4 linked regions of the Homo sapiens genome follow. The protein of the gene in region 1 purifies or fractionates together with the protein of each later gene. This does not show direct contact. Each region holds a gene or a part of one and is shown on either strand. Other genes may lie near its edges.

Region 1 (7,021 bases):
CTCCTAAGACATAATCAGTAGATTCTGGGGGTTCTTCCTCTGTAATCTCTCTTACATCTGCCTGTTCCTTTCCACAGCCTTCATGTCTCCCTCTCTCTGCAACTGACTAACCATCTCTGGTATAGGCCCTCTCAATGCCACCCACTCCCCCAAGTCTTTCTACTCTAAACTGACCTAAAAGGAGACAATGCTACCTTGTGCTGTCTTCTGCATAGTCCTGAAATGGTCTAATCCCATACTGGTACTTAGCTCTTTCCTCATATTTATTATATGTTTTATCATCCAACTAGATTATAAATCTGGAAAGGAAGGATCCTGTGGCTGAGATGTATCTGGATCCCCCATGGAGTTATGTTTTACACTTAGAATTCACTTGCTATGACATATTTTAATTTGCGTGAAAATTCAACCCTTAGATCACAAAATTATCTTTAGAAGGTTTTTCAAAACCAGATTACCCTGGTTCCTCTACATGTTTGCTCAATGACCCTGGACAAATTATATCACTTCTCTATTGCCCCATTTCCCCATGTGTGAAATGGGGTTATTAACAGTATCTTATAGCGTGGTAATGGGGTTAAATGAGATTATCCATGTAGATGCATACTATTGACATGTACTCCGTAAGTGTTAATAATAACCAAAATGTTCTCCATTACTACAATCTTGATTTATATTCATAAGCAGTTTTATCAGTGCCTTCAAAATACTCATTACCTTCTGTTTATACTAACCACACACAATAAGCTCAATATGAACACTTAATTTTTTGACTCTACCAACATACACCCATGGCTGGCCCTTGAGAAGTGGCTCTAAGCAGCAGCTTTAAAGCTCAGGGTCTCCCTGAAGCCCTCTGCATGTCAAGTACATGAAAGAAGGAATGCCATCTCACCAGTGGCCCAGCAGGGGCGCCATAGGGGCCAGTGGCAGGGTAGGCTCCGGTGGCACTTGGCTGTCCAGAAGATGGGTAGGCCCCAGGGCCGCTGGGTGGCCCTGGGTAGACTCCAGGTGCAGGTGCTCCGGGATAAGCTCCAGGTGCTCCAGGGTAGGCGCCTGGAGGTGCCTGTCCAGGATAAGCCCCTGGGGGTGCCTGCCCGGGGTAGGCCCCAGGATAGGAAGCCCCTGGGTAGCCCCCTGCCCCAGCAGGCTGGTTCCCCCATGCGCCAGGCCATCCTTGAGGGTTTGGGTTTCCAGACCCAGATAACGCATCATGGAGCTGGAAAGAAAGACATACACAATTACGGGACAGAAAGCATTCTCAAAAGCAGAATTTTCAGGAAAATAGGAATATGTGATCTAAGAAGGAGAGGAATATGGCAAAGGCATTACATGCATATCATTAAACTTTTTCCACTTATTAATAGTTTGAGTTTCTAAGACTAAAATTAGATGTTGGGATTACATATACTTTTTCACTTTATTCTTGCCTCCCAACGTCTCAGATCAGGGAGGGCTGCATTTTCATAATTAGCTCAAGTCAGGAGTTAGCGCTCCTCTACTTATAGCACATACTTTTTCATCACCGTGAGAAAAACAATCACAAACATCAGAATGCCCAGACTGTACCGCACTTCCCGCTACTCAGAGGATTTCTCAGCTCCTGCCGGCAGAGTCCACTCCCTTCCGCCCTGGGCCTTTTGGTGAAAGGGTTACTGTGAGTGAGTCCCAGGCCTCGCTCTGCCTGGCTTTCTTCCCAAATCTGCTGCTGGAAAAACAAGGCTCCAGCTTGCAAGCCCTCATTGGACAAATGAGTCCAGGGGAAGCCACGCAGTGGGAGAGTGAAAAGGGAAAGTCATGGTAAAAACAAAACCCCCAACCCTCAACCATGTGGAGCTGATCAAGGGGAAGAAACAGGCATAAAACACTTACCGAAAAATTGTCTGCCATTTTCCTGAAAGAAACAAAGATTATCATTTTATCCTAAAAGCTTTCACCAATTTCCATTAAACTGAACCTCACCACTAGTTCATTGTGCAGTTCTAATCCATCTCTAGGCATTATGCCTAAGTCAGTAGTGTGGCGCCACAAAAACATCTCTTCAAGGGGCAGGGATGCTATCCAGCTAGATTGCCAAACCCTATTTAACTCACAAGTTTAAACTTCCGTCACACTAGCCTGTGCTCTGAATCTTACCCATCTGCCCTCTGTCCCCACTAACTGCCCCATCCCCTACTCTGGGTTTTTGAAGATAAGCAGTGATTGATTACTACTGAGACAGGAAAGACAATGACCTCCAGACATAGTTGCTGCCCTGCTATTTATTCCTCTATTTGCACACACTTATGCCTGCTCCTGGCCAGGCACTGCGCAGGCTCCTATCTAGGTGTGAAGATGAATAGGCCATGATCTGCATGGTCAAAGGGGCCACAGGATCTAAAACTCAAAACAATTGAGCCCACAGAGATATAGAATAGAAGGATGGTTACCAGAGGCTGGGAAAGGTAGTGAGGGAGGGTGGGAGGGAGGTGGGGATAGTTAATGGGTGACAAAAATAGTTATAATGAATGAATAAGGCCGGGTATTTGACAGCACAGCAGGGTGACTATAGTCAATAATTTCATTGTACGTTTGAAAATAACTAAAAGTATAACTGGATTGTTTGTAACACAAATAAATGAGAAGAGGGATACCCCATTTTCCATGATGTGATTATTAGGCATTGCATACCTGTGTCAAAACATCTAACGTATGCCATAAATATATATACCTGCTATGTACCCATAAAGATTAAGAATTAAAAAAAAATAAAAGCCGAAGGGCCTACAGTGCAGCAAGGCAGATGAGATGCATCCATGGAAATGTGAAATAACAAGTCACAGATGCTATGAGTCAGAATGTGTGCTGTAGGAATTCAAACCCAGAAAGCTTACTTCTAAGAAGGAAAGGAAAGGTGCTGTTGGAGCTAAGCCTCAAAGGGGAGCTGAAGTTTGTATGTGCTTTTTTTTTTTCAAAGGTACTTGTTATTCCAAATAAAATATTTGGCAGTACAACAAACTAAGGTGAAAAAATTCAGGCAACGTGACGTGAAGGAAAAAAATATTTGGGTCTAAGATGCTACCAAAGAGGGTTTGCCTAAGGGGTGGTCTGGAGACATCAGTCCTGCTTTCTCCTGTTCCTTCCCATGTCAAGGCTCCAAAAGCACAAGATGCTTCACAGCTGTTGTAGGTGCTCCAGCAGTGAGGGGAGGAGGGCAGCTGGGCCCCTGAGGCATGGGTGAGTTCTTCCTAAGCTCAGGATCACCTGTGCCATGGCCTGAATTACCTGGACCTTGAAACAACCAGAATATCCTTCTCTTTGATTTGCCCACCTGTGATATTTACTCAATCACTTTTAGAAATGGCATCGGCCCCAAGGGATCCAATAAATGTCCACTACTTGATTCAAATGCAAGATATTGGCTGGGTGTGGTGGCTCATGCCTGTAATCCCAGCACACTGGGAGGCCAAGGTGGGCAAATCGCTTGAGCCCAAGAGTTCAAGACTAGCCTGGGCAATATGGCAAAACCCTGTCTCTATGAAAAATACAAAAATTAGCCGGGTGTGGTGGCGCATGCCTGTGTTCCCAGCTACTCGAGGGGCTGAGGTGGGAGGATCATTTGAGCCTAGGAGGTCAAGGCTGCAGTGAGCTGTGATGGCACCACTGCACTCCAGCCTGGGTGACAGAGCGACCTCATCTCAAAAAAAAAAAAAAAAAAAAAAAACCATAAAATATTACCTTATTTTTGGTAAAACTCAAACAGGCAGAGCTCCTCCTAGGGCTTAACATATGCTTCATTTATACACACTGGATATTTTATACAGGTTGAGTATCCCTTATTTGAAATAGGACCAGAAGTGTTTCTGATTTACATTTTTTTTTATTTTGGAATATGTCCTTATGCCCAGTTAAGCATCCCTAATCTGAAGAGCCAAAATCCAAAATCTCCAGTGAGCATTTCTGTAGAGCATGGCCTCTGAACATCATGCAGGCATGCAAAACGTTTGGGATTTTGAAGCATTTCAGATTTCTGCATTGGGGATGCTCATCCTTTACTATACTGCTATTATTTATATCATAGTCAGACATTACCTTTGACTAAAATATTTTTGCACATCTTTTTTTTTTTTAGACAGGGTCTTGTTCTGTTGCACAGGCTGGAGTGCAGTGACATGATATCAGGGCTCACTGCAGCCTCCACCTCCCAGGCTCATGTGATCCTCCCACCTCAGCCTCCCAAGGAACTGGGACTACAGCCACACAACACCACACCCAGCTAAGTTATTTTTTTTTTTAGACACGGGGTCTCACTATGTTGCCCAGGCTGGTCTCAAACTCCTGGGTTCAAGTGATCCTCCCACCTCAGCATCCCAAAGTGCTGGGATTACAGGCATGAGCCACCGCATCCAGCCACACATCTCTTTTTGAACATGGTCATTCTGAAACCTATTCAGAAGTGGTTAGGTTATGACCATGCCCATTTTCCAACCTAGGGAACTGCTGGCAGCTTGACAGGGAAGTCACGGTGACTCCAGAGGTTACTGCATCTTTCATTTACGTTACATCCTGTAGTGCTTGGCTTTTTAAAGCAAAAGTTGTGAGCTCCTCTGCATGTGCCTCCTTCCCCAAAAGGCTGCCACACTACCGTATAAGAAACCGTATAAGTTGCTACTGCAGGGGGACCTTGAGAGAAGAGTTGTTACAGAAAAGGAAAATAAATGAAAATTTTTAATTCAGAAAAAGAAAGTCTCCCTCATTTTGGATGCCATACGAAACAATCTTGAACTTCAAGGTGGGCAGAAAGCTTAGTTCCTTTAATTACACATACTTCTTCCACCCTAAGGCAACATATCAAAGACCCAGCAATAACGTTATCAACATTTTGATTTCTTTTAAATGTCCTCATTGCACAGGAGCTTATTGTGAACCTCAGCACCACTGACACTTCAGGTCAGATGCTTTGCTGTGGGGCGCTGTCCTGTGCACTGCAGGATGTTCAGCAGCATTGCTGGCTTCAATACATATGCTGCCAGAACTCCAGCATACCACACTCCAACTTGTGACAACCAAGTGTCTTCAGGCCAGGTGTGGTGGCTCACACCTGTAATCCCAGTCATTTGGGAGGCTGAGGCGGGAATATTGCTTGAGCCCAGGAGTTCAAGACCAGCCTGGGCAATACAGCAAAACCCCAGTCTCTACCAAAAAAAGGAAAACAAAATGTCTTCAGACATTGCCAATATCCCCTGGGAGCAAAATCATGGCTAGTTGAGGACCGCCAATCTAGCTAGTTAGCAGTGTATCCCTACATGAATGTACACACGTGGTTCAATAAAAACCAAAAAGGTAGTTTCAATTGTTAAAACTAGCTGAATTTGCCTTATAAAGGGTCCTAACATAACTCTATTCAAATTAAGATGTGTTTAAAGGCTGATTCCAACCAGAAAGTCAAATAAAGAAGGCATTTCCATAATTTAATATTTATTCTTTTCAAAGCCTCTGCTCAAGCATGTTTAGTTTATTTTCCAATCTAACCAAATCCAGTTTGGGAAACAAAGCAGATCTCGTTGCATTTCCACTGTTTCAACACCACCTCGGAGGGCAGTATAGATTGTGTCTCGACACATTAGACAAGGCCACTAGAACAAAACCTGGCATTTGTGTGGCGCTTTTCAGCTTATGAAGCATGTTCACATACCTTATCTATTTTAGTTATAATGACATTCTTTGTGGTGAAATCTTGTACTGTCCTGCCATCTCACTGTCCAGCCTGGGACATGAATCATCCCTATGTCCAGCCTATCTACACTGTAGATGCTACCCACCCACAAGTCACTTAGTAGCAGGCTTGGTTATCAGATCAAAAAAACAGTATATATAGGGTTTGATACTAACCATGGTTTGAAGCATCCACAGGGGGTCTTGGAATGCATCCCCTGAAAATAAGGGGGAGACTACTGTGTTCTCACCATAAGGAAACTGAGGCTCAGAGAGATAACATGGTGGCCCAAAGTCATCTGTCATTGGCAGATCAAGGAGTAGGGCTCGTGTCTTTTTACTCCTTATTTAGGCTCATTCTACACCAATAGAAAACATCACACTTTGAAATTTTAAAGTACAGTCCTTTGAAAGTGTTAATTACTTCATTGTGAAATTAATTCTCTGACTTACTCATCTGTAACTACATAACATACTGAAATTGTAAACAAATTTTTTAAAAAGGATTGTGTTTTGGTCAGAAAACTAACTGGGTGATTCATTCAAGCACAAAATAATATTGAATATTGAATACAAGAATGCCATTTTGTATAGTCATTTGCTAATTATAATGACATTTTAACCAATAAAGTGTACTTTTCCAAAAATTGGGTATGCCCCGTCAACTTCCAACCATGAGATTTCTTTTTTGAAAAGCATTATAGGCCGAGTGCAGTGGCTCATGCCTGTAATCCCAGCACTTTGGGAGGCGAAGGCAGGAGGATCATGAGGTTAGGGTTTTGAGACCAGCCTGGCCAACACAGTGAAACCCCATCTCTACTAAAAATACAAAGAATTAGCCAGGTGTGGTGGTGGGCGCCTGTAATCCCAGCTACTCAGGAGGCTGAGGCAGGAGAATCGCTTGAACCCGGGAGGCAGAGGTTGCAGTGAGCCAAGATGGCACCACTGCACTCCAGCCTGGGAGACTGCGAGGCTCCATCTCAAGAAAAAGAAAAGAAAAGCATTATAACTGATGCTCTTTTGAAATCAAGATTATTAACCTCAAAACTTTCAGGAAAACAAAAAAGACATCTATTCAGATAAGTATCATCCTTACTTGCCTGAAATTTTTTTCTTTTTTCTTTTCAGATGAGTAGTTTACAGAGAGAGACATACAATCAAATGTCACAAATCTTCCCACTCTACAGACACTATAGATATGTGAACCCCACCCTGGTGTTTCCAGGATCAGAGAATTTTGAACAGTCAGAGGGGAAAAAAAAAAAACTTCAAAAAATAAACTAAAAGTAGAGAAATACTAGCTGGGTCTCCACATTTGTAAACACCT
Region 2 (7,805 bases), on another chromosome or scaffold:
GCAGAAAAACTCCACGCATGTTAAGTTGTCCAGCCCTATCTTCTTCCAGTTCCATATGGTCAGGTTCTCTGACAAGATTTCCATTCACTTGTACTTCCACTGTATCACCACTTCTGGGGTTTTCTGGGTCTACAAAGAAATAAAAATTTTATATCAAATACATTTAAAGTGTTTATATAAACATCCTTGTCTAATTCTTTTTAAGTGGTGATGAAGGTGAAAATTTTTTCAGAAAGTACAATTAAAAAAATGTGCTCAGAGCAATTTAATATAAATTGACATTCTGGGAATGAGCCAGGACATAATAGCCAGGGCTAAATTAAGTCATTGTGATACTGCTTCTTCACCCTCCTAACCACTCTCCTGCCTCCTCCTCTCCAAAATAGTGTATATTTTCTATGGGGGTGGAGTCCTGCAACCATTCTGCTATACTTTATGGTATATACAAAGGAAAACATAAAATTGAATGCTAACACCAAAATTAAATGCAGCTAGGAATAAGTCTACTAATACAAAATACCTGATTTGACACTCGGGCACTCTCTAGTCACTCTTTGTCACTGAGGCCAATTGCTTGAGAATAAAACCAATTTTAACTTTTAAACTTTTATTATGAATATAAAAGTTTCTTGGTAGGGGGGTTTAAAAACTGACAAATCAACAATAAAAATCAATAATCACAGAGATTATTAGAAAAATTGAAACTAAATGACTACCTGCCCTACTAACTTTTAAATCAAAAGTATTGATCTTTTCAAAAAGTATTGATCAAAAGTATTCAAAAAGATAAAAAGTATTGATCTTTTGAAATTACACACCAGAGAAACTTAATTTTCTTTGGAATAACACCTTGCCGAGTGGAGTGAGAGGAAAACCAATTACTTATTAAACCTTTCCAATGTACAACTTGAATTTCACTAACTTCATATTCTGCACTCGAAAAGGAAAATTATGTAGCATAATTTATAATGATACAAGGTAAATAAACGTAAGTGAAGGAAATAAGACCAAATTGTTAAGCACCATTGAGCTTGGGTAGTAGGACACTGGTTGAGTCATTTCCATCTCCTTTCTTTCAACATTTATTTTCAAATTTCCTTCAAGAGCACTTAATGTTAAATATAAAAAGCATCCACTAAAAATATAAGATGAATAAATTACCATCACTTTTAGTTCAGTACGATTATGAAAAGTCCTGGGAAAATGTTAAACATGCCCAGACAGGTCCTAAATCTATGATTTCCAGGATTAGGGATCAATTAGCTGAAGCATACACTGCTGTTCATAAAAGAAACCTTTAACCAGGGTTTACACGCTCTGAATGCATATTATGAAACGGAGTTCAATGGGCATAAGAACTACTTTGGCAGAGCAAGGTTTCCAGCACCCAACTACTGGGGACGAATTGGGGATTCTCTCCGTTTCCCAAGAGGGCCAAGGAATTGAATTGGGAAGCATTTCTGACGCTGTTATAACCATAACCAGACAAGTCTCCAGCAAAGTTGCTGCAGCCTGTAAAGACAGCCAAGTGCGGGTGTGGACTGCAGCGGGATGATGATCACCTCCTGACCCTTTTTCTTAGGGTCTGACCCACAGCCCCCACCTACAAATATGCCAGACGCGTCGCCGGCTCCTTGCACCCGACTGAGGGGGTTCTGATTTCCTGGAGCAGCAGCGGGGCGTGTGCAGGACGGGGAGGGAGCAGGCAGGGGCGGCGCGGCGCAGGCCCGCTCGGGCAGCAGGGGGCGTGCGGGCCACCCCGCCGAAGGCCAGGCGAGGCTCTGGGCACCCCAAACCCAACCACCTGCGGCAGCGACTTTCCCGGCTCACCTGCGGGGTCCAATTTCAGCCCGTTGGAGTTGCTGGTATTGGCCACCAGGGTGTTGGTCTCCTCCTGGTCGGGACCCTGCTCGCCCGGGGCCACGTTGATGTCGCTGCTCCCGGGGCGGGTGCTCTTAACGCGAGGCCCCTTGGGGAGGCCGTGGCCGTGGCCGTGACCCCCGTGCGAGTGGCCGTGGCCGGAGTCCTGGCTGAAGCCGCTGTGATGGTGGAAGAGGCAGAGCCCCAGCACGTTGACCAGCAGCCCGGCCACGCCGACCCCAAGGACCACCAGCGGCTGCTGCATCTCGTGCGGCTCGATGAAGCGCTCGATGGCCTCCAGCAGGATGGCGAAACAGAGGCCAGTCAGGAAGATGGCGTTCACCAGAGCCCCCATTACCTCGGCTCGGATCCAGCCGAACGTGTTCTTCTGGGTGGCGTGGGTCCGCCGGGCGAAGCGCTCGGCCACCAGCGCCACCACCAGCGCCAGCACGTCCGACAGCATGTGGAAGGAGTCGGAGAGCATCGCCAGCGACGAGGTCACCCGGCTCACCACCACCTCCAGCACCATGAACATGAAGGTCAGCGCCAGCATGCACAGCAGCCGGCCCCGGTTCCGACCCCAACACCCCATGGCTGCGGCTGCGGGGCCCGCCGAGCCCGGCCCGGAGACTGGTGCAGCGGCGGCGTTGGCGGGACGCGGAGGGTCGGCGACCGCGACACGGAGGAGCGCCCGAGTCGGGCCGTTCGGGAAACCGCTGAGGGGCCCCCGCGGCCGCACGGGGACAAGCCCGGGTCAAGCCGCCGAGCCCCGCGCCTGTGGGCGTTCTCCGCCAGCCGGCGGCGCCGCGCCGCGCAGCTCCTCAGGCGTCCGTCCTCAGAGCCGGCGCCGAGGCCCGGCTCAGCCTCAGCAGCCCCCACACCCAGGCGGCGGCGGTGGCGGGGAGCTGGGCTCCCGGAGCCGGGGTACCAAGAGCCGCAGCCGGAGCAGGAGCAGGAGGGCGGCGGGCGAGGGCGGCAGGAGAGGGCGACGGGCAGCTTCGCGCCGAGAAAGCTCCGAGCATCTGAGGGCTCTGCTTGCTGGTCTCCTCTGCGGCGGCTGGACTGAGGAGCGGATGGCTGAGGAGCTAGAGAGGCGGCGGCCACGGCAGCTGCACTCGGCCCGGTCTCGGGCGCCTTCTTCGCCCCCCCGCCTTTGCAGACGGTTTACAAAAAAACTTTGCTTTGCACTCGGAACCCCCGTTTTCACACGGACCCGAGCGTGACAAGGCCTTGCCGCCCCGCCCACCAGGCCCGGCACGCTTCCCCATTGGTCAGGACCCCCTCACGACAGCCTCGGCGTCCCGCCCAGCCACGCTCACTATTGGATGGAGCCTCGGAGGGGCGGGAAGGGGGCGGGGTCGCGGCTCCAACAGATAGGGGCGGGGCCTTTTCCTCCCGGAGCCGGGCGTGGGCCGGGGGGCCGTGGCCGGGTGCAGCGGCGGGCGAATTGGGGGCGCGGGCCGCGTGCAGCGGGAGGGGGAGGGGCTGGCCGGGTCCCCTCGGGTGTGGCGGAGTCCTGGCCTGCGGACCATCGCAACTCCCAGCACACCTGCGGGGGCCGGGCTGCAAAGTCTGCAAACAGACTTTGATCCTCCGAGCCCAGTCCACGTGGGGGCGGGCCGCGCGGCGGCTGTGTGACAGCTCGGCGGCGGGGGAGGGGCCGGAGGGGAGCCCCTGAGCGCGGGGCCCTCGAGTACTCGGTCCTGTCGGAGGAGGCCGACAGACGCATAAACAAGTGCGACTGTAACTTGGGACTCTGCTGGACGCCGAGCTGAGGAGTTAGTCCTCCCGAAGGTCTGCTAGGGGCGTGGACCGAATCTTTGTACATGTTTTGGGAAAGCCAGTTTCTCCTATCACCATCAACCCCTGGAGACCTTGTGTGAACTCAGGTGTCTGTCACTGATTATCTAAGGACAGTTCAGGGTACAGACTTCAGGCAGGAGAAACCTGGGCTCTGCTCCTTGCCTTGTCAATAGCCAGCTGTGTGGCTTTGAGCAAGTCACCTAATCTCTCTAGACCTGTTTCCCCATCTATAAAGGACTGGACAAATGCAACTCTGAAGATCCCCGTCTGACTCCAAAATTCTAAGGCTCTATGATTTAACATTTATTTATAGACTACACACGGTGGAATCTTGTGCTGGTTGCTATGGGGAGGTGGAGGGGCAGTAAGAATACAAAGGAACGAGTTTCTGTCCAGGTGGAGGTAAAATATAAACACGACATTTTAAAATTACGATGGAATACTCTTGATAAATTGTGCTATTTTAGACTGAATACATAAGCACTGTGTTGTGGGTGGAGATGAGTTGATCTGGAAAGGAACAGCTTGCCCATCTAAGGTGGGGTGGTGGCTGGAATCAGAGTGGCTTAAGCTGGACCTGAAAGGCCTCACCACAGCCCCTGCGCAGCAGAAGGACCTCCCCACCCACTGCCCTAGATTACTACTGGACAAATGCAGTGCCAGCTATTGCCTGGAGATGTGTATACAAGGCTTGTTTGGAGCTGTTATTTTGCATTGTTTTGGTATTCTTGTAATTCCTATGAAATTTTTTTCACTTGTATGTAGTGTGTTTCTAGTCTCCCCATCCAGACTGGAGAGCTGGATCCTCACCTTCTGTTTCTGTTTTGCTGGAATATAAAGAATGGAGGAAAATTTTCAAGACATTATTAAGGAAAAAATGATAGAATTTGATGATTAATTGGGTATTGGGAAGGAGGAAGCTAGGTAGGAGAACAAAGATAGTTATAATGTTTCTAACCTGACAAGGAAAATACTGCCTTAAACAGGTGAGGAAGTTGGGAAGGGAGGCCAAGAAGCTGATTTTTAGGAGAAAATATGAACTCCATTTTTAATGTGCTTAATTTGAAGTGAAGTCTGGGTTTGGGCAGTGCTAAAGGGTGGATTAATGGGTTTAGGACTTCCATAACTTCCTCTCCTTTGATATGGATGAGTGACAGTTTTCTGATCATCTGTAAACACAGCTTCAAACATCCTATCAACTAGCCCCTCATATACAGAAATTCGGAAGCCACTTATGGGTCAAGATATCCTCATGGAAATGGCCTAGAGGCAGTTTGAAGACCATTTTGCTTTCTACTAAGGGCTGCTGTGCCTCGCTTTATTTAAAAAATACATTCCTCCAAATGCGAAGATTTGATACCCAAAGAAGAACCAATAAGAAGATGTAAAAGTCAGTGATGCTTGCAAACACAATAGCAATCCTTCAATAACTAAACAGACTAAATTGGGAGATTTTTAGACCCATATAAAAACAGGTTCAACTCATAGCCGCTTCTGAAAACCTACTTTGTGCCTGCATTTCAGCCATTTCCCAGACAATGTGCTTTATTCCCTCCTGGTGGGTGGTTGGGGGCGGGGCAGAGGGGGCAGGGAGTACATTTTCCAGGTTCTAGAGAAGTTATAATCATGTTCTCTGGAGAGAGTAATATTTACCACACAGCAGAACACTTCAGTCAGACTTTGTTTCCCTCTAACATTGTGTAGGCAAAAGACTTTGGTACCTCAACTCGAGCTTTTTCCCTTTTCATCTGGTTGTCCTAGTAGAGTGTCAACACAGGCAGGAATAGATTAAAATGAAGGGACACTATACTGTTATTCACCAACACCCCTGGAGGCTGTGGCCCTGGGTTGAGTAAGACGGCTTGGCTTTCTCTTCTTAATGTTTGAGAAATCTCCTGATAACTTGCTTAGTATCCAAACTGACTAAACCCAGCATACTTTAAAGATGAGAGAATAATGCTCTTTTTGGAAAAGAGACTGCCAATTTGAATGAAAGTCAAGGGCTTCAGACAAACTGCAATCTCAAAGCCCTCTGGACCTCTCCTTGCTTTTAATGAAAGTTTAAAATGATCTTGTAAGATTCTCGTAAAAACTGCTAAACACAAACGTACTTCTGAATTTTGGTAATCAAAAATCATGAGTGTATAAAGCTGTACCTTGCTTGGAAAGATAAAATAACAAAACCCTGTGAAAACCACATTATATTTGACTTTGGCTGACAGTAAATCACTTCTAATGTTCAATCTTAAAACTGATGGGGAAATCTCTCAAAACATAAATGAATAATTATTACAAATATGAAGTGAAATCTCTACCAACAACATGAAGGCCAAGGTTTGATTTCTCAGCTGCTCTCAAAGGAACAGGCAGTGGAACAAAGAATAAACAACTGACAATGCAGCAATAAAGCCCAGAAATAGCACTAAAGTCTCAGAGGTGTGAGGGAAACCATATGAAAGAAATGGTCAGAGCAGGAAACCCACGTAGCAGCAAAGGGGAAACAGGAACAGTGCAGAGAGTGAAACTGTACAGTAAGAGGCTGGGAACAGTCACTGAATTTTTATATTTGTTAATTTAAAGAATAGGCCGGGCACAGTGGCTCACACCTGTAATCCCAGCACTTTGGGAGGCCTAGACTTGTGGATCACCTGAGGTCAGGAGTTCAAGACCAGCCTGGCCAACATGGTGAAACCCCATTTCTACTAAAAATACAAAAATTAGCCAGGCATGGTGGTGCATGCCTGTAAAACCAGCTACTCGGGAGGCTGAGGCAGGAGAATCGCTTGAACCAGGGAGGCAGAGGTTGCAGTGAGCTGAGATAGCACCATTGCACTCCAGCCTGGGCGACAAGAGCAAAACTCCATCTCAAAAAAAAAAAAAAAAAAAAAAGAATAGCAGATGAGGGCTAGCAGCAAAAGGAACTTATTTTTCTTGGAGGCTGGAAACTGGGTCTAAGTTCTCCAGTTATGCCTGGAAATTCAATCTAGAAATAAAGGCACTGCTATCTATACAGAAACACTCATTAAAAGCATCTGTGAATTTCTTGGGTGCAGTGCTATATAATGTTAATACCAGAAATTGTTGAAGGCTCAGGTAGTCAGTGTTAAGACTTTAGACTGAATGCCCATTCTTTCTTTAGCCCTTCTACTCTTGGGGCTGGAGATGGTAATTAAAGCACAATGTACAGAAAATTTGAAAAAAAGAATTTAATTTAAAAGTATGTTTTTATGACTCTCTCCATTACTCATCCCTAAACATGCCGGCCAGTAGAGCATTTTGAAAGGATCACACACCTAATGAGTTTTAGGATGACAGTTCAGGGACTGGCCCTTAAAAGTTACTGTGTGATGTTGGAGAAGTTACTAAACCTCTCTGGGCCTCACTTTCCACATCTTCTCAGTGATGGGGTGTACATGATAGCTTCTTAACTGGAGTTAAAAGGTGAGTACAGGAGATGGAGCTGCCTAGTGCATATTCTCAGACAGGGCCTTTCAGGCCTCCTGTACTTGGGGTCACCAAGAATCCAGAGCTGAGTTCTCAACTTGCAAATTCAGAAACCACTTTTGAATTATTTCACCTAGGCGAACTCATTCATATGGACACAAAAAGGACTCATTTGCCAGCTGGACTTCCAGTTTGTTCACTTTCTCTGTCTCGGGTTAAAGCTCATTGCACAGGTCCTTCCTCCTTCCCTCTTGGTAGGCAGAACCTCACGGAAGGAAGGTTGCATGAGGACGGAACTAGGCTGCAGGAGCTGGAACTTCTGTGGAAGGGAGCATTTCCAGGCTCTCTTCTAGACTGTAAAATTATCTTGCCTTTCTCCAAACAGCCACTCTGCCCTCCTGTTCCTGAGTTGTACTCCATTTTACTGCCAGAGTGATCTTTTTGAAATCCAGATCTAGTCCTTGCAAAATACACATCCTCCACCACCCCCACGCCATCACGGCTGAGATCTTGCAGTGGCCTCCCAGTGCTAGGAGAAGGAGAACCAAACTTGGGTGCACACGGCCGGACCAGATCTGATCTGCCTCTGGCTGCTGTCCCCAGCCTCATGATGTCGCTCCACCAGATAAAGAGGGGACTGGCCTTTCTGACCACCATGAATCTACACACTCCCTCCTGCCAGAAGGCCTGTGCACACA
Region 3 (7,021 bases), on another chromosome or scaffold:
CTGTCACCAGGCTGGAGTGCAGTGGCGCGATCTCGGCTCACTGCAACCTCCACCTCCCGGTTCAAGCGACTCTCCTGCCTCAACCTCCCGAGTAGCTGGGACTACAGGCGCCCGCCACCATGGCCAGCTAATTTTTGTATTTTTAGTAAAGACAGGGTTTCACCACATTGGCCAGGCTGGTCTCAAACTCCTGACCTTGTGATCCACCTGCCTTGGCCTCCCAAAGTACTGGGATGACAGGTGTGAGCCACCGTGCCCGGCCTGCTAGCGCTTTTTAAAGACAGAACTGACGGAGTGCAATGGGGAAATCTCAACAGTGACTGGTCTGGCACTTGTATCCTGCACAAACACATATCGAAACCACCAGAATGGACTGCATGGCTCTCAAGGCAGCCCACAGAAGTGATTCAGCCATTTATGAAACTGAAAGAGAGGATGTTAGGAAAGGAGCCCAAACCAAGTATCTACTGGAAAAGCCTCCGGAAACCAAGGACGTCTCCTTTCCCACAGGGAGGGAACGAGGACTCCCTTCCTTGGCATCAACCAGTGTGGTGACGGGGCACAGAGAAGGCACTCCAGCCCCGGGGGGAGAGAGAGGTCTGAGGCCAAAGCTGAGCCTGCGCTTTGGGGAGGTAGGACAGGCAGGCAGACACAGCCTCCAGTGCAAAGACTTCCTGCAGACAGCCCTTCTGCAGGCGCACTCTGCTGAACCGCAGCCTGCAGCTAGAGCCCTGCGGTGATTCAGTTCTTCTCTGCCCATGCTTATTTCCCCATGTGCCACAGCTCTGGAAGAGAAGCTGAATTATAAAGAAGGCACAGCAAAAACTTCATTCAGACACGACCTCACTTTAATTATCTATTTGAACAAAAGAAAATGCAATAGTCTTCTAAAATGTCCCAGTCTCTAGAACAGAGATTTCTTAAGCCCAGGGACTAATTTCTTTAAATCTATTAAGTACTATATCAATACATTCAGTCTGGCAAAAGTAGATGAAAGCTGCTATGAAGGCAGCATTGTTTGAGAATATTAAATTCCATTTCAGCAATGCTTAACACTGAATTCCTCATGACAGCAGATAATACATAGTTGGTTCAAGAATATCAACTTTTATTATTATGTAACTAAGCTGTTTCATCAGTCAATAATTTTCAAATATTAATGAAGGGAGAACTCCAAAATAATTCAGAAAGTCAGCAATACCCAGCTTTATCAGCAAAAGATAAACAACTCATTTCAGCACATAAAAATTATGAAAACAGAATGGAAATCCTCAAAAGGATAACTCTCCTCATCAGAGTTTAGAGACTTAGGCATTTGTTCTTATCAGGTTTATCTGTAGCGGGAGGAGATGCTGCCCAGGAGCCTGTAACAATCTAGAAACATTTTTGTCACCAGAAAAATGCACACAGAATTTTACATAAAAAATTCAAAGGACTCGCAGGCACCCTGACACTTGTTAATAAACCTAAGGTTAGTAATCTGAAGGTGGAATTCTCATCCTTGAGGATGATACAGTACCTTTAATTTACAAAAATTCATCTATTCAGCATTCAATAGCCTAATTCTAAATCAGTAGGTAGAGAAAAACCTCCCTTTAACTCAGTCCAAATGTCACTTTTCAGAGCAACCCAATGGTTTTAGTACCAGCAGAAAAATGACGTATCCTTAGGAAAATAATCTTAAACTTTAAAATAAAGGATTAGTGCTGTAAAATAACTGATACACATCCTCTTTTACAGACATGCACTTCCTGAACAACCTGGGGCACGACTGCGTGTGAGCACTATATTCTGAATCCACAACTGCTGCAGTCGGGCCTGAGGAGGAACGGAGCAGAATGCCTCTTACCTGCAGCAAAGGCCGAGCACATGACAAAGAACATGCCCACGGCGATCCTCTTCAGGGAGGATGGGAGCAGGCCATGTCTTCTCAAAATGGGATCGACCAGTTTGTCCTTCAGAGGGATGAGCAGGAGGATGAGCACAGCATCAAACATGGTCAGCCAGGCTGCAGGGAGCTGGGGTGAAACACAGGAGGAGGCGTTTACTCCCCGCAATACAGGCCATCACCTGTCTAGAGAACCAACGTCTCAATGGGAGAAATGCACGTAAAGAACAGTTCCTCTCCACAAGGTACAACCTCTTCAGTTTAGAGACAACGGAACTGGGAAAAGATTTCTTTCCAAATGAATCTGCATTTGCTTTTCTGTGTTTTGAGGGGAAAATAATCAGGTGAAAAATACTAAGTAATGTTGAATTGATGTTAGTCAACCTAATCTAGCAAATGATACAACCAATGAAAAAATATTCTCTAAAATAAGTAAAAACTCTATTTCAATAACAATGCTTTTGTGTCGGTGCTGTTAACATTTATAAAAGATTTACAGTTGGTAGAAGGAATCCATTTATTACATAAGTCCAAAATAACAATGTTCAGATCATTACAATTGTTCTTACCGTGTGAGGAGTGGTTGTAATATTTGAAATTTCTGGAATCCTCAAATGAAGACTCTGTAAAACATATGTTGTCTGCATCTAGGTATAAAAAACAGTATCATTATATGTGGACCAACTGTGCTCTCAAACACTCTAAGCATCCTGCCCCTCCCCTAAGCTAGACTCAGATGCGACACACAGTGACTCCCAGAAATAGACAATGGCTCAAGTTTGAAAACAGACAGGTCAATGATTTGGTCATCGTAAAGTCCTCTGGAGATCAATTTTGAAAAAGAATGGCCAGTTATCCAAAGGAGAAATTACATTAACAAGAGGGGCCTGAAAAACCAGAAGCGTACCTGTTCTCAGCTTCTTTTTCAGAGAGGCTTTAGACATAGTTAAAGCAGCCAAAATGACTCCATAACTAAAACCAAAAATTCCAAGATTCTGTAGACTCATGGGAAAAAAAATCACCTAGTCCTACCTACTTTAGAAATGGCCAAAACAAGTGCTAGGGTAAGACTTCATAGGAAGATAAAGGAAATTAAACCTGTTTGTCACCACTCACTTGGAAATACACTGTCCAGTAAGGTATCAAAGCCAAGAAAACAGGGACAATCTTGACCAGAGCTTTCACATCTTCCACTTTCTCTTCTGTAAATGGCCCACCATGAGACATCTTACATGAATCAAACAGACTTTGTTTAGAAGATTGCTGAAAGACTCCAATGCCTTCACTTTGGGAAATAAAATGAAGGAATTAGTTTTCTTCCCCTCCCAGCAATCAATTATTTGGTCACAAATTAAGTTTGGAGGTAAGAAACCAGCTCACTGTATTGAATCTGCTTCAACTCATTCCATCACTTACTAATTGTACACACCCAACACAGCTACCTAAATTATTTCTAAATGTCACAGAATGTACTGAAACAGCTGACAAAGGGACTTTCTAGTCAAAGTGAAACTGGGCTACTGTAATTTTGGCGTGGCTGGAAGATCTGTGATGACAGTGTGAACCACGGCTGAGCTGAGAGCCCCAGCGCAGCTGCCAGCTCGGCAATCTCCGTGTGGGGAGAGTCTGCAGCTCTACGTGACACTGGGAGGGACACTAGCTATGCCACTGGATAGCATATGAAAAAATGCACTGGATTGTGTGAATTTTTAATCAGCTAATTTATCAAACATCAAGACCTGACAGCCAATACCCATGCTGTTAATAAAACCCTGCTGGTTTAAACTGAGTCACTGGCAGGACTGAGGCAGGCTTCTATTCTCGGAGGAAAGCTGTCAGCTCTTGGATTAAGGAAGAGCTGTTGGGGGAGGGCGGTGCTGGTGGTGATGAGAGGAGGATGTCCCTGGCTCTGTCCCCTGACAGTAGGAAACAGGGAGTGCCCAGTGCACCGCGTCCCATGTGCTCCCTCATTAACCATGTGGTGTTAAAACTCTTCAGGGCCCTATTGCACAGAGGAAGATGCCGGGGCACAGAGAGTGTGAAGGGTGCCTGAGGTATGGCCAGGACTTGGACCCAGGCAGTCTTGGCTTTACAGCCTGAGGCCCTGACCCCTGCAGGACACCACTGTCCCTCCACTCCCTGCCACTGCCCTCACATCTGCCGGTCACAGCAGGAACATGGACCTGGCATCCCCAGCTCTTGTACTAACGAGTTTCACTTCCTTGCTCTGGGCCTGCTTCATTATTTAGAAAATGAACAGGCCCCACTAGACAGCTCCGCACTCTCTCCCAGCTCCAAAACACTCTAATGGGGAACGGGCTCCAAGGATCTCAGGGGTAAAATGGGAAAACAAAGTGCACACTATTCTCTAAAGCCAGAAGTACCAGGAGAGAGTTAATTCCCAATAAGATTGTGTTTAACTGTGGGAAGCCAACAGAAATGGCACCTGTCAGCCTTCTAGTTTATTAACTCATGTCCCATTTTACTATGGTGCCAGTATTTTAAATTCTTTATCTTATAAAGTCAACATTTTAAGTCTGGACATTCAGAGTGGGGAAAAATAGAAGCGCTGAAAACTATAACTGAATATTTTAGCCAAATTTTGGACAAGAAAACTAAGTTCGATTCAACAAATACTGATCGAGTACCTGCTGTAGGCCCTGCATTGCTCTACCTGGGGGCTAAAGGGGAGGGCTCCTGTCCTTACGGACTTAGTCTAGTGGGGGAAAATAATCAAAAACAAAAACACCCAAAAGTGAAAATAAATTCCAAAGACATTATAAATACTTTCACTCGAAAACATTAACTTCTTCAAGTACTACTTTTTTTCAAAAAGGAAATTAAAGTCCTTTTGTACCTAATGCAGATACTATCAGTGGTTTACCACATCATATTAAATACCTTTCACTAAAAACATTTAAATAACAAATAAACCCATTTTCACACAAAGAATCATTCACACAGGTTACTGGTTATATTACTTTCGCTTTATGTAATTAAAATATTTAAAAGCTGTGAAATCAACATGCATCTGAAGCTTTACTGGGTTACACATATTGTTAGGTGCACTATTTTGCAACATACAAGGGTCCAACACGAAGCCACGGTCACAAGTGACACCCGAACACCCACAAGAGCCCTCTGCTCCTCCCACACAAGTTGACGAGCTCCAGTTTCAGGACGCCTGTGCCTGAGTCTCTGTGAAGGCCGCATGTAGGTGTGTGTATTCTCCAGGAAAAGAGTCCACTGGTTCTCACGGATTCCCAAAGAAGTATGTATCTCAAAAAGCTGTAGAACCATTTCTACTCTGGTCTGATGAGTTGAACAAATACGCCTTCATTTCTCATTTAATATCAAGCACTATATTATCTTCAAAACACAGATCAACCTGGATTGAAACTGAGATTGGGCCAGATGAAATTAAGTGTCACAACTGTAAAAATGTTGGGTATGTCATGCTTCCTCAGGCTTTGGAGGCCCAACTTTTTTTTTTTATTTTATTTTTTCGTTTTTGAGACGGAGTCTCGCTACCTTCCAGGCTGGAGTGCAGTGGTGTGATCGCGGCTCACTGCAAGCTCCGCCTCCCGGGTTCACGCCATTCTCCTGCCTCAGCCCCCCATGTAACTGGCACTACAGGCACCCGCCACCACGCCCGGCTAATTTTTTGTATTTTTAGTAGACGGGGTTTCACGTATTCGCCAGGATGGTCTCGATCTCCTGACCTCGTGATCCGCCCGCCTCGGCCTCCCAAAGTGCTGGGATTACGGGCTTGAGCCACCACGCCCAGCCTGGAGGCCCACCTTTTTTAAGGCACCCTCGTCACAGTGGTCACCACTGACAGGGCCCTTATCATGTACCTGGCATCCTGCTGAGGGCCTTGCACACATCACTGTGCTCAGGCCCCACCGTGAGCCCATGAGATGAATCCATCTCCGCTGTAAAAAAAGGAAAGCTGGGCTTCGCAAGATCAGTAACCTGCCCAAGGTTACAGAGCCAGTTCATACAAACAGCAGAATCTGAGAATTCCTCAGACCATCAACTTTTCTGCAAGCTAGCCCCTGCTTTTTTTTCCCTTATTTTTGCCCAAGAAGACTTTCAAAGACTATCCTAAGAGGAAATCGGCTTCCTAAGTAAAAGTAACTCCAAACCCTCTCCACACTGCCATTTGTGCTTTAAAACCCAAATATGTCCACAGAACAATGCTGTTCTCTTGCAGAAATGTCTATGGGCTACCACCCACACGGATACTAAAACTTTAAGGGTTGTTCCTGAAAAAGACCTCTAGGATCCGAAACACTGCTTTTGTCTGATCAAATAAGGCCCTGGCAAAAGACTAGTGTCAGCTAAGATGGGGCTATATTTTTTTTTTTTTTTTTTGAGACAGGGTCTCACTTTGTCACCCAGGCTACAGTGTAGTGGTGCAACCATGGCTCACTGAAGCCTTGACCTGACCTCCTGGGCTGAAGTGATCCTCCCACCTCAGCCTCCTGTACTTTAATTACTAAAAATTCTTTAGTGCGGTCCCACCATTTGCAGTTTTGAATTATGTGTCTGAATGCCACAATGACCCACTGGCATTTCCAATAGGTCATGTAGACTGGTGAGATCTGCCAGAACTCCACACAGGGACAGCCGGAGAAATCAGAGATGTTCAGGAGCAAAGTAGGCGCACAGGGCTATTTTGGTGAAGTTTCAATCTACCACGTGGAAGGAATATTAGACACATTCGCTACGGCTCCAAGAGCATGAGTAAGACAAACACAGACAGGCCGCAGGCAGGCAGATGTGTGAGTGGGCCCGCAGAAGAATGTCCAGCAACCAGTGCCATGCCACAATGGGGTGCACGGCTCAGAGACACAGGACGCTCTGATGGCTGAGTGATCAGCCTCCCACCCAGCAGCCTCCAGGCATTTCTACGTTGATCAAAACATTCCATGAGGGGACTGACTACAAAAGGTCCCAGAGACTTCTCTGGAAGGATGGAAATAATCTATGCCTTGACTGCACTGGTGGTTACACAACCTGAGTAAGTTTGTCATAATTCACAAAACTGTACAGATATAAGGGGTAAATTTTACTATCTGTAAATTATTCCTCAATAAAGAGTAACACAAACACTTCTGAGCTCTCTTC
Region 4 (7,392 bases), on another chromosome or scaffold:
GGCAGGACCCACCCTCTCCCAGCCCAGGGAGCCCCAGACGAGTGGAAGTCCCTCCTAGACAGTGGGTGGCCAGGGCCTGTGGGACCTTGACAGAGGCTCTGCACGCTGCACCTTCCAGACAGGCCGGGGCACTGGCCAGCCCTCCTTTCCCACCCCTCCCAGGGTCTCCGAGGCCTCTGGACGCACCCCTACAACCTGGGAAGGAGTGAGTCTACCCTGATGTGGTCACGGAGGAAGGGTGGGCTCCCCCAAGTCAGTTACAAAACCCACTCTACCCTGAAGTCGGACGAGACGCAGCCGGCCCCCAGCAGTGTCCTCCCACCTCCTACTCTCAAAAAACCACCCCACTGAGAAACTGAGGGTTAACACGTCCTTCTCATTTCAAGACGAGGTATTTCACATAAGAATAAAAGCTCCGTCCCAAGAAGTGCTGAGGGCACAGTGCCCATCCCCGGGACAGGACGCCTCCCGCAGAGGCTCCACCAGAAGCAGCAGGGAAGCTGCAGGGGTCGGGGACAGAAGGCCCCTGGAGCCAGGCTGGGCAGACGCGGCCTTGCTGGGCTCTGGGTCGAGCCAGGCAGCCCGGGCAGCAGCATCTACCCCTCTTTCCCCAGAACCCCCCAACCCAGGCTGGGGACACCAAGGCCCCTGCTCCTCAAGTTGGGGTGGCTCAGGACGCCCTCTCCACGCCCACCTGGCAGTGCCTAGGATCAGCCCACCAGGCCCCCCAAACTTGCTTCGCCGTCACCCAGGCGCCAGCCCAGAAGCTCCAGTACCTCCACAGACCGTTCAGGGGAACGGCAATGGAGTCAGGAAGAGCTTGGGTGCTGGTAACTCTGTGGCCGGACAGTTTTGGACCTGGCCTGTGACCTTGTGGTGTGGACCCCACACAGAAGGCCTTTGGGAGGGGCTCCGGCTTCTGCAGGACCCCCGCCCCCAACCACCACCAAAAAGCAAAGCCTGTGCCTCCTTCCCCAGGCTCCGTGCCCATCACGGGACTCCTCGCCGCACCTCTGTGGGCTGAAGATCAGGATGTGATCAAGTGGATTCCGAAGGGCAGCTGCGTGCCCGTTACAGCCTGGCAGTGGCTGGGCACCGGGCCCTTTCTGTGGAAGTAGGAAGCGGGTCCAGCACAAAAGCGCCAGGTGCAAGTTCTCTGCCAGTTCGGAGAAATCTCCCAAGTTCAGCTCACACCACAGGGCCACCCTCAAAAGTGTCCAGAAGCCCACACCTGGCCCATGCCCTCCCGTTCTCAATTTCATGAAGGCCAGGGAGCCTCCTGACACGCCCGTAGCAGGACCTGAGTGCGCGGGCAGCGACATGGGCAGCGCTCAGCCAGGGCCACTTCCTGCTGGGCAGACACAGGCCCAGGGCACTGCTCAACAGCCTTGAGAGTAGAAGAGACAAGAAAACGAACAAGCACAAAATTCTCTCTGGCTTAAAAGCAAATGACACTTACAGTCTAAAGACAAAAGTGAACCTGATCAGCCTTGAGAAGGGGCCGGCCAGACAAGAAGAGGCTCCTTCTGAGTGCGTTCCGGGGGCGTTGCTACAAAGCTCACACAGAAAGACCACGCCAGGGCCCACACTCCTTGGTGCTTCCTGCCTCCACGGTGGTGACTGGAGAGAAGGGGCTTGGACTCACGGACCCTGCTTAGTTAGCACTTCACCTGGTGTTGAGCCTGGCGCCCCGCCTGACCACTTCCAAGATCTGGGCTGGCCTCTGTGCAGAGGAAGCTGAGACCACTCTTCGCCCGCCACGGGGACCCTGATGACGCACCCCAGGCCACCAGGCCACTGCCTTCACGGTGGGTCCCCACCCGTGTCTCCGGGTTCCTAAACTGCCTGGAGGGGATGTCTGGCCTTTCCTGCCCGGGATGGTGGGTTAGGAAGGATCTGGGGTCTGGCACCGGACTTGTCCCTGGACAGACCTCACCTTCCTTCCACTGCCAGGGAGCAGGGAGGCTGCCACCCACTGCATGAGACCCGGGCACATGCGGGCACTGCCAGCACGCGGGGTGGGGGCTGGACTGAGTCCGGACACCTTCTCAGAGACTCCGGATGGAAGGGCCTAAGAGCCTCCGGTTTCTAGAGGGGGCTGAGATCCGGGGAGTAACTGGGATTTGGAGCCAGGATGGAGGGAACAGGGCTGGGGGATTCTCTCCCCAGCCCCGTCCCCACCCCCTAGAGAAAGTGAAAGTGCTAGAAACCTCCAGATTCCCGGAACGGGGGACGGGAACACGGAGGACGCGGCCTGAGCAAGGCCCCGGTGGCTGCCCCCTCCCCAGCCAGGGCGCAGTCCTTCCTGTTCCGCCTCTGGGGGGTGGGCGGCTCCTCCAGGGTCAGGCGGGGGCAGGACGGGCCGGCCCGGGCTAGTGTTACCGGACGGCCGCGGCGCAGGGGAAGGGAGAGCGCGGGGGACGCAGGACGCCCCGGCTCCCGAACCGCCCGGGTCTCCACCGCCACCCCTGTCCCACTAGGGACCACCCAGGGGCCCGGGCTCCCTCCGGAGGCGCGCTCCAGCCCCTCCCCGTTTCCATGGCTACCAGCAGCGGCGTCCACACCTCTGCCCCCGGTCCCACCCGAGCTGACCGTACCGGGAGCCCTGGCAGGGCCCCTCGCCCCCTAGCGCTGCCACTAACGTGGGGTGGGGGCCCTCGTGGGGGACCGAGAACAGGCGGTGGGGGCGCGGGAAGGGGCGCCTCCTGTACCCCCGGCCCCGCCGCCCGCCTCCGCTCCCGGATGCCGGGCCCAGACCCGCGCTCGGGGCGCTCGGCCTTTGTCCGGCCAGGTGCGGCCGCGCTCACCCGGGCTGGGGCGCTCGGGCTCGGGGCCCTCGGGGGTGCCCGGAGCCTCCGTCCGCTCGGCAGTCTCGTCCCCGCCGCCGTCGGCGTGAGCCTCCACGGGCACCACGGTGAAGTTGGTGGGCATGGCCGCCTGCAGCCGACAGTCCCCGTCCCGGCCCGGCCCGCGCTGCGCCGCTCCCGCCGACGCCACGGGACTTGGAGGCAGGGGCGGGGTCCGACCGAGCCGCCCCGCCCCGCCCGGGCCACGTGACTTCACCTGCTTGCCCCGCGGCCCCACGAAAAGTTGGCCCGCGGCGACTTCCTGCAGGGACCCCAACCCAGGCTGCGTCTGTCTGACCGCCGCGACCCGGGACGCGGGGCTTTCGCTGCCTGCGCTCCCGACCATCGCAGAGCCCGCGAATCCCCGCTCAGTCTCCTGCACCCCCTCCTGCTCCAGCCCCCTGCCCCTCCTGCTGGAACTCCCCGCCCTCCCCGCCCTCCCCGGCCCCCTCCCCGCCTCCCCTCTTGTCCCCTTCCCCGACCCCCCACTCCTGCTCCAGCCCCCTGCCCCTCCTGCACGCCCTTCTGCTGGAACCCCTCACCCCTCCTGCACCCCCCCACCCTTCCTGCACCCCCTCCTGCTGGGCCCCCCTGCCCCTATGAACCCCCTCCTGCTGGAACCCCTGCCCTTTCTGCACCCCCTCCTGCTGGGCCCCTCCTCCTTCTGCGCCCCCTCCCGCACCCCCTCCTGTTTGCCCCCCATTTCCTGCTCCAGCCCCCTACCCCTCCTTCTTCCCCCTCCTGTTCCCCCCTGCCATCCTCCAGCACCCACCTCCCACACAGTCCGCCCACCCACTCCAGGCTGTCAACACCCGCTCAGACCCTGGGCTCCTAGCCTGGCTCCTGGCTAGCCCAACCTGGCTGCAAAGGCAACTCCAGTGGAAGGAGCCTTGGATAGCCTGGGGGTGGGGTACTCCGGAGCTTGGTCCAGCTCCAGTTTAGGGACCTAACCCAGTAGAGGGAGTCCCCCCCCCCACCCATGACAAATACCACCCACGAAGACCCCAGTCTCCTCCACACCTGCCCCAGGAGTGCCCCGCGGCCCCTGCCCTAGAACCCTCCCTTCCCTCCTTGGGAAATGTTCCAGAAGCTCACAGGGTGATGCAGGGAAGGTGGAGTTCCAGAACCCACCAGGCAGACACCAGGATACCACCGGCCAGCACCTGGCACATTTCTCAACAAATGACTCATGAAAAACGGAACAATCAGATGTCCGTCAATGGGGAATTGGGCTAAAATGCTATGGCACACAGGTGCAATGAGTCAGCCTTTATTCCTAATCACCCACAACTGCTGTACGACAACAAAGCAGAAACACAGGTGGTGTGGGCAAACACGGCCACAGCCTCTTGTCACGTGGAAAATGGGTATGGCCTGGCCATGTTTTAGCCGCTTGCCTGTCTAATCCTAAAAGGCAGCTGGAGGGGAGTGATGGCCTCCGGGCTGTGGGATCACCGGGCTCTGTGGGTTCAAGGAACGCAAGCCCAACCTCTCCAGCCATTTCCAGTAAAGCCAGTCATGCCCTGGGGTGGCCTAGGGTTCTACCCCTTTGCCCCATGGACTCTTCTGGGCAGAAGCTGTAGGCCTGGGACCCTCCTGGAACGTCGCCCATCCAGCACCAGCCCTTGCAGAGGTGGGGGTTCCTCTGGCCTGGGTGTCTGGAGCTGTGCCTGCTCCACACTCTCACCCCACCTCCCACCAAAGGGAGCTCAGGGCTGTGGATGGTGCTAGGTCAGCTGCCTCCCTGGGTCAGTGGGTTGGAAGGTAGGAAACCATCACCTCCCCAGAAGATAAAATAGTTCCCAGGCATCCTTATGAGGAGGGCTGGCTTTGCTAAAAAGATCCAGGGGGTGGGAACAGAAGTGCCCAATGGGGTCAATTATAGGGTTCACACTTAGGGTGCTGGGTAAACCCTCTCCTCAGTCACCCCAGCAGGGGCTTCTGTACATTCAACCCTGGTTGCCACCCAGCGCTATTCCCGAGGGTTGGACAGAGCTCAGGGTGGGCACGAGGCCTTCCCAAGTGATGCCAGCAGGAGCAACAGATGTGCAGGGCTCCCGTCGCACATCCAAGCTCTGCTTCACACCCCAGGACCCCAGGGCCGGCTGCCCGCCATGTGCTGGCTGTGGACCTTCAGAGGAGCTGGTTTGGAGGGTCTGTGGCCAGGGCCAGCTCCCGGACTCAGGACTCATCAGCTTCATTTTACAGAGGAGGAAACTGAGGCCCAGGAGTTTAGGGTCCTGTGGCAGCTCCGAGGGTGGTCTTCTCTGTGATTACAAAATCTTGACTAGGACCAGGGGCCATGGCTGAAGCACCTGGGTGGGTGCCCAGCCCTGCCAGGCAGAAGGCAGGTGGCTTCTCTTGTTTAAATCTTAGATCTTACTTGTGGGAGACCTCGGGTGGGGGGTGAGGTCTGCTGCCTTTTGCATTCTAATCAGGTGAGTCACGACAGGGATCAGCACCCTGTAAGCACCTGCGGGTCAAGACAGAGACCCTTGCCGGAGCCCAGAAGCCGCTGCAGGCCCCTCCCATCCCATCAGTAGCCCATCCCTAGGGGTCTGGTGGCCCCTCCCTTCGCTCTGTGGGTTTCCGTGTCCACGTATATCCTCCCACACGGCAGCCTGGGGTTAAATGTGCGTTGTGTGACTTTCAGTGCTCTCTTCCTACCCACCTCCATCCCTCTGTCCTTTTCTGTACCCGGCACCTGTTGTAGGAAGTGGCCCTCGGACACGTGGAGGTACCCGAGGCCTGGGTTGGAGCTGCATCTTTCGGTGCAGGCCTCTGCGTCTCCTGGAAGTGGGCACCTGGAGCCAGGGGACTGCTGGGATCCGGGTCCAGTCCCCTGGCAAGGCCGGGGGCTCGCAGAGGGAGCCACGCACTGTCTGGTGGTAGCTCCTCCGTCCGCAGTCGTTGGTGCTTGATGTCTGAATCGACAGATTCATGGAGCAAAATGGTGATTTTCCAGTGCGTGGTGGCTTCGTCATGAATTCACTGGAGGGAGAGGCTCATCTTGTCCGTCTGGCCATCTGGATAATGGTGCCCACAGGAAAGGCAGGGCAAGGGTGCCTCTCCCTCATTTGTCAGTTTCCACAACGGTGAATTGGTTCCCGACAATCTCCCAAGTATATTTGTACATCGCTGATGAAACACATTGGTGGGTCTCAGTCGATCACCATTAGTGCCCTTTCCAAGCATCGGTGTCCAGCTTTGCCCAGGGGGCCTCTTCAAATGCAATCTCGCATCCTTATGATGTGAGCCTGGTCATCTGCGATGGCCTCTTGGCCGTGTGCAGGGCACAGCCAGGGGAACCCTGGGATTTAGTGCGAAAGTGTAGCCGATGGTGGTTACATTCTGTGTGTAGATTCTCGAAACAGTCCCTGCTGCCTGCCACCCTGGGGTGGAGTTTCTAATGGATTAGGACGGACACCCAATGCCAGCTTCCAAGCCAGGAGGCCGCTCGTGCCCACGGCTTGGAATCAGGGCTGTGGCCTGGGAGGGCTCTCACCAGACGCAGGCTGCCTCCAGGTATCTGTGTGCCTCTGCCCACGGAGCTTCTCCCCAGGTCCGCGGGTCCCCCCAGTCCACTTCTGCTTTCCTGTTAGGGTGGGGGGCTCATCTCCTGGTGCGCCATCTGCATCCTTCTGGGCTGGGAACCTGCTGTCGGGTATCAGGCAGGGCGCACCTCCAGGGCTGAAGGATGCAGGTGGGGCTGGCAGGCAGAGTGTCCGTGGAGAGCTCCGTGTCCAGGGAAGGGGACACCTGGAGGAGGCCGGCCCTGGAGGCCCCACACTCCTTCTCACCAGAAAGCCACCCGCCTTCTGCCTGGCAGGGCCGGGCACCCACCCAGGTTCTTGCCTGTTGGCCCAGCACCCATGGTGAGTGGGGGAGAGAGCGAATAGGGCAGAGCAGAAGAGAGAGGGGAGGAAGGAGAATCGGGGGAAGGGGGAGGGAAAGGAAAGAGGTGGGAAGGGAGGAGAGGGAAGGGAGGCCCCAGTTACCCAAGGCTAAAGTGATTTTTAAAAAACAAACCTTTTTTTTTTTAAGCGTGGTGAGCCTCTCCTGGCAGGGTGGGGTATGTGGACATCAGTGGAGGAAGCAGAGTCTCCGGCCACCTGTGGGACCCACACTCTCCCTGCCCAGGAGTCCCACCAGGGCCGAGAATTCTGCCCATGGCCAGGGTGGCCCTAAAGCCCCACATCCGCCACCACCTGTGGGGGCTCGAAGGGAGCTGTGGTAGGCAGGGATGACAGAAGACCCCAGCCACAGCCCCAGGCCCATGGCTGCATCTCCCCTGAAGAAGCAGCCCTGTCCCAAGGGTTCTGCAAACAATGCCAGGCTCTTCCCAGGCAGGCACCGCAAGCTGCCCCCCGCCCCGATCCCTGGCTTGCCCAGGGCGGGGCCTCTGGGCCTGGTGGATGGTGGGCCTGGCCTGGCGCTGGGGAGCCTGTCTGCACAGTGGCCAGGTACGTGGGGTTCTGAGCCTCCCCCGGGTCCTGTGCCTGCTGGGCAGGGGTACATCCCATGGAGCTGAATCTGGGAATAGAAG

Evidence for each region.
Region 2: the proteins of LGALS3 (region 1) and SLC30A1 purify together in Homo sapiens (affinity purification with mass spectrometry; 4 studies listed by BioGRID and IntAct, with this or other methods). This does not show direct contact.
Region 3: the proteins of LGALS3 (region 1) and SLC15A4 purify together in Homo sapiens (affinity purification with mass spectrometry; 5 studies listed by BioGRID and IntAct, with this or other methods). This does not show direct contact.
Region 4: the proteins of LGALS3 (region 1) and SLC12A7 purify together in Homo sapiens (affinity purification with mass spectrometry; 5 studies listed by BioGRID and IntAct, with this or other methods). This does not show direct contact.

Annotation. Positions count from the first base shown.
Region 1 is NC_000014.9:55,132,243-55,139,263, reverse strand, and holds part of LGALS3 (galectin-3), read right to left. Parts: intron 5,913-7,021; exon of another isoform or gene 5,910-5,912; coding exon of another isoform or gene 5,872-5,909; intron 2,282-5,871; exon of another isoform or gene 1,895-2,281; coding exon of another isoform or gene 1,891-1,894; coding exon 1,873-1,890; exon of another isoform or gene 1,220-1,872; coding exon 896-1,219; intron 1-895. UniProt on the Homo sapiens protein: Galactose-specific lectin which binds IgE. May mediate with the alpha-3, beta-1 integrin the stimulation by CSPG4 of endothelial cells migration.
Region 2 is NC_000001.11:211,576,161-211,583,965, forward strand, and holds the start of SLC30A1 (proton-coupled zinc antiporter SLC30A1), read right to left. Parts: upstream 3,002-7,805; 5' UTR 2,453-3,001; coding exon 1,831-2,452; intron 130-1,830; coding exon 1-129. UniProt on the Homo sapiens protein: Zinc ion:proton antiporter that could function at the plasma membrane mediating zinc efflux from cells against its electrochemical gradient protecting them from intracellular zinc accumulation and toxicity.
Region 3 is NC_000012.12:128,806,939-128,813,959, forward strand, and holds part of SLC15A4 (solute carrier family 15 member 4), read right to left. Parts: intron 3,174-7,021; coding exon 3,005-3,173; intron 2,536-3,004; coding exon 2,458-2,535; intron 2,019-2,457; coding exon 1,850-2,018; intron 1-1,849. UniProt on the Homo sapiens protein: Proton-coupled amino-acid transporter that mediates the transmembrane transport of L-histidine and some di- and tripeptides from inside the lysosome to the cytosol, and plays a key role in innate immune response.
Region 4 is NC_000005.10:1,109,061-1,116,452, forward strand, and holds the start of SLC12A7 (solute carrier family 12 member 7), read right to left. Parts: upstream 3,004-7,392; 5' UTR 2,932-3,003; coding exon 2,808-2,931; intron 1,542-2,807; exon of another isoform or gene 1,460-1,541; intron 1-1,459. UniProt on the Homo sapiens protein: Mediates electroneutral potassium-chloride cotransport when activated by cell swelling. May mediate K(+) uptake into Deiters' cells in the cochlea and contribute to K(+) recycling in the inner ear.